Linked DNA regions of Homo sapiens: region 1 is linked to region 2. Evidence: fine-mapped expression QTL. Tissue or cell type: iPS cells. Region 2 holds a variant in brackets; the other region holds the start of a gene. All regions are shown on one strand. Distances are between the middles of the regions.

Region 1 (2,606 bases), 210 kb before region 2:
GTTATATAACTATAATCTTATATAAGGTTATATAACTATAATCTTATATAAGGTTATATAACTATAATCTTATATAAGGTTATATAACTATAATCTTATATAAGGTTATATAACTATAATCTTATATAAGGTTATATAACTATAATCTTATATAAGGTTATATAACTATAATCTTATATAAGGTTATATAACTATAATCTTATATAAGGTTATATAACTATAATCTTATATAAGGTTATATAACTATAATCTTATATAAGGTTATATAACTATAATCTTATATAAGGTTATATAACTATAATCTTATATAAGGTTATATAACTATAATCTTATATAAGGTTATATAACTATAATCTTATATAAGGTTATATAACTATAATCTTATATAAGGTTATATAACTATAATCTTATATAAGGTTATATAACTATAATCTTATATAAGGTTATATAACTATAATCTTATATAAGGTTATATAACTAATCTTATATAAGGTTATATAACTATAATCTTATATAAGGTTATATAACTATAATCTTATATAAGGTTATATAACTATAATCTTATATAAGGTTATATAGCTATAATCTTATATAAGGTTATATAGCTATAATCTTATATAAGGTTATATAGCTATAATCTTATATAAGGTTATATAGCTATAATCTTATATAAGGTTATATAGCTATAATCTTATATAAGGTTATATAGCTATAATCTTATATAAGGTTATATAGCTATAATCTTATATAAGGTTATATAGCTATAATCTTATATAAGGTTATATAGCTATAATCTTATATAAGGTTATATAGCTATAATCTTATATAAGGTTATATAGCTATAATCTTATATAAGGTTATATAGCTATAATCTTATATAAGGTTATATAGCTATAATCTTATATAAGGTTATATAGCTATAATCTTATATAAGGTTATATAGCTATAATATAGCTATACTCTTATATAAGATCATATAGCTATACTCTTATATAAGATCATATAGCTATACTCTTATATAAGATCATATAGCTATAATCTTATATAAGATCATATAGCTATAATCTTATATAAGATCATATAGCTATAATCTTATATAAGATCATATAGCTATAATCTTATATAAGATCATATAGCTATAATCTTATATAAGATCATATAGCTATAATCTTATATAAGGATCATATAGCTATAATCTTATATAAGATCATATAGCTATAATCTTATATAAGATCATATAGCTATAATCTTATATAAGATCATATAGCTATAATCTTATAAATGTGAACGAATGAGTGGTCCGCTGGCCGAGTGGACCCGCGAACTCACCAGCGGACTTGTAAGCGAGCTCACCTTGCCCGCTCCCGCTCCCGCTCCAGTTCCCAAACTCTTGGAGCAGAAGAGTTACATTTCCCATAAGGCCCCGTGCGAGGGGCCGGCGCTCCAGCGGGGCATCCTGGGAAGCATAGTCCACGATCCATAAATCACTTTCTGGAGACCCGCCCTCGCCAACATGGCGGCGCCCAGTTGGGGCGGGTTCGTTCGCTTCGCGTTTTGGCCAGGGCGGGGGTCTGGGCTTTAGGCAGTAAGTGCGGCTGGCGCCCGGGGATCCTGGGAGGGACGTGGGAAGCGTAGGGACAGTGTTGGTGGCCCAGTCTGAGGAGGGCGAGGCGAGAGGCTGCCCAGGCCTGCCTGAGGACGCGGCGCTCTCCTGGAGTCGGGGCAGTGGTTTCGGGCCACGGGGACCTCTGCCTTTTTGCGCCCCTGGGCCTGTGGTGGCTTGGAGGGCCTCGGCCGGCCGTAGGAGTTGGGAATTCAGGAATGCAGACAACGAGCTCGAGGCTAGACTCTCGAGTTGTGTTTTTTTAGTTTTCTTCTGAGGAAAAGAAAAATAATTGCATTTCAGCGCTTCCTGTCATTTGGTACCTATGCTAGGCGCTTTACGTTTCTCATCTCCAAGTGACCCTCCGCCACACTCGATGTGAAACCTTGGGGAAGTCACCTAGGCCCCCAGGGCTAACGATGGGATTAGTGGATACATACTGGAAGGCCTTTAGGCTTGATAATTTTAGTGGCAGTCTTCCCCGCCCTCCGCTCCCCTTCCCCCCTCCCTCCCCAGTGAACTGACTTCCGGCCCAACAGCTTCGGGACTGTACTAAAGTGCTCTAAAAAAAGTTAACTTGATCTGTTTAATTTAAATGTCATAATCTGGTATATAGTACTGAAGGGTGTGACAAGCAGAGATTTTAGAGAGTTGATTCTCAGAATTTAGGGTTGGCTTTGCCGTCCCAGCAGTGGATTAGTTGTGGCAACAGGTTTTCTTTTTTAAAAAAATTAGTGATGTGAACGTGCCTTTTTAAAAACAGCTGTTACTTATTGTGGGCCAAACCCTGTACACTAACTGCCCTTCTTTCGTTATGTCATTGGATAGTTTAAATGACCCGAAGAGACAGATGGTATCCTATTTTACACATAAGAAAACAGATTAACATATCCAGGGTCACACAGGTAGTTAGGGTCCTGATAGGGATGAAAAAAATCTAGATCTTGCTGCCTCCAAAACCCAACTACTGTACATAGAAACAGTAGTCCTGTGTTCTAAGAAA
Region 2 (2,764 bases):
ACCCTCCTCATACACAGCTGGTGGGAATGTAAAATGTTACGGCAGCTTTTTAGCTGGAAAATAGTCCGGTAGTATTACCATATGGCCCAGCACTTCCACTCCTAGGTGTATAGCCAAGATAAATGAAAACCTATGTCCACACAAAAACATGTGCATGAATGTTCACAGCAGCATTATCCAGAATAGCCAAAAAGTAGAAATAACCCAAATGTCCATCAACTGATAAATGGATAAATAAAATACAGTGTGCCTGTAGAATGGAATATTACCCAGCAACAGAAAGAAATGAAGTACCGATACATGCCATGACATGGATGAACCTTAAAAATATTATGCTAAGTTAAAGAAGCCAGACCACATATTGTATGATTCCATTTATGTAAAATGACCAGAATCAGCAAACACAGAGACAGAAAGTAGATTCTTGTTGCCTATGGTTGAGGGAGTTGAGAGGAAACGGGGTGATGAAAATGTTCTAAAATTGACTGTGGTGATGGTTGCAAAACAGCGAATATACTAACAACCACTGAACTGTATCCCATGTGAATTATATCTCATAAAACTGCGGTGCATTTTTTTAAGTTTTTTACAACTTAAACCCTTTACCTAATTTTTACTAGTCTTCATTTCACAATGGAAAAAATGCTTTGTTTAAATTTAAAATCAGGAATCCAAGCACTTTCATGCTCATATCCAAAAAATGTTAACTTTCTAGAAACTTTTAAATAAATTAAACTCTTTTAACTGATAGCTTTGCAGAATTACACGGTTCTTCACTGAAATTTCAAAATACCTTATAATGTGCTGGTGAATGTGCTGGTCGGAGTGTTAGCTCCATTTTCTTTCTTTCCATTCTAGCTATGCAGTTCTACAGAGTCATTACTGTGTACTGTAGTCAGGAAATACAAATGAAGTAATGTCTTTGCTGTGGACAGCTTCAACTCTAAAGAGCTCGAACATATTAAAAAATCAGACATGCATGAAATGCTAAACTGATAAATGGCCATCACAAATCTGCACACATCAAATTTTCAATATGCTAAAGATCTATAACCTGAAGAATTATTTGAAGTTTGGAGAGGCTTCTCTTTACATGTGTGCCATAAGGTCTTGTTTTTCAAAGTCTGGTCCATGGACCAGCAGCATCAGCATCTTCTGGGAGCTTGTTAGAAATGCATATTCTGCCAGGTGCATTGGCTCAAGCTTATAATCCCAGCACTTTGGGAGGCTGAGGTGGGTGTATTACTTGAGCTCAGGAGTTTGAGACCAGCCTGGGGAACATGGGGAAACTCCATCTCTACAACAAAATACAAAAATTAGCCAGCATGGTGGCATTTGCCTGTAGTCCCAGCTACTTGGGAGGCTGAGGCAGGAAAATCACTTAAGCCCAGGAGGCAAAGGTTGCCGTAGCTGAGATCGCACCACTGCACTCCAGCCTGGGTGACAAAGTGAGACCTTGTCTCAAAAAAAAAAAAAAAAA[AG/G]AAAGAAAGAAAGAAAAAGAAATGCACATTCTAAGGCCCCACCCACCCTAGACCTACTCAACCATAATCATCATTTTAACAGGATCCCTAGGAGATGTGTCTGCACATTAAAATTTGAGGAGCACTGCCCTAAGACATTCTCTTTTGTTTTTCTCTTCATTAAGACAGCTCTGACTTGCACTAGACTAATATTTTAAAAGCCTGACATACATACAGTTCTGGTCCTGGGCCAGCTTGTCCTCAGATCCATTCTTTGTCCTTCTGCTCCAGTCCAAGTTGTGGAGGAGGTGACCCCAGCAAGGCCAGGGTTCCCAGGCAGGAGGGGAACAGTACATCCGCAGCAGCAGCTGTGCCCTTGCAAGGCTCCAGCCACTGCCAGATGGACCCCTTGTGACCCCAGTTTTTGGTGGGTGACAGCTGTCCCTGGAGTCTGAAATGCCATCTCCTTCCTTCACCCTCCAACTTAGGGGTGGCAGCAGTTTCCTGCTTGTTGCCTCATCTCCGGCTTGCCTCATTGCAGCCTGCATTCTCAGTTCTCACATCACCTGTGTGACCACTCCCCTAGATTACATTCCTTCTGTTCCAAATACTTAAGGTGAGTTCTGTTTTTCTTTTTAGACTCAGACTGCTACCCCATACCATTTTTGATGTTTCTATTATGTACCATAGATACCAGAGGAATTTTGTGAATGGCTTATCTGCTGGAAAAAAAAAAAATGGAGCTATTACATACAGTCAACCTCGCATTCCCACATTCTGACAATCTCTTAACAACTCAGAAGAAAAATCAGCCTTAAGCTATCTGTACAGCAGATGTGACTGTATTCAGAAACTCTAAGTCCTCGGGGTGTATTTTTAACAGTCTACCCATCACTCCTCCTCAACCAGAACAGCTGGTATAGCAGCTATTGTTTTAGGAGAAAAAAGAAGGAAAGCAAAAACACCTCCTAACCAACAAAATTCTAAACACTGGAATCTCCCAGGAATCAAATCTCTCTCAACACAATCTTGATCTTAATCAACCTTGTAAATCACATGATCTACCCCACACTGGTCAGTACCTTGCCTGGGCAACAGGAGAAAGCAACTCCTATCAGTATCATTTAGGGCTATGTGGAGATCTTCCCAAAAGCACATCTGATCCATCACCCCCATACTTTGAACAATCCTCTGTGGCCACCTCTTGCCCAAGGCCAAAAAGCAAACCCCTCAAAGGACCACCCCTTCGAAATTCAGCCCTAACCAACCCTTCCAACTAATAAGTCTAATCAACGTGATCCACC

The links. PIP is the estimated chance that this variant, and not a neighbour inherited with it, causes the effect.
Region 1: it holds the start of USP40, and the variant in region 2 is fine-mapped to the expression of USP40 in iPS cells (HipSci, PIP 0.91).

What each region holds. Positions count from the first base shown.
Region 1 is chr2:233,565,663-233,568,268 of GRCh38, reverse strand. USP40 (ubiquitin specific peptidase 40) reads left to right here and starts at 1,487. Exons shown (of 32, transcript NM_001365479.2): 1 at 1,487-1,585.
Region 2 is chr2:233,356,255-233,359,018 of GRCh38, reverse strand. The region is part of intron 1 of DGKD (diacylglycerol kinase delta); the gene reads right to left. Among named protein-coding and RNA genes, the nearest start is that of DGKD, 3.1 kb to the right of the region's middle. The variant AG/G (reference allele first, on the strand shown) is at 1,481.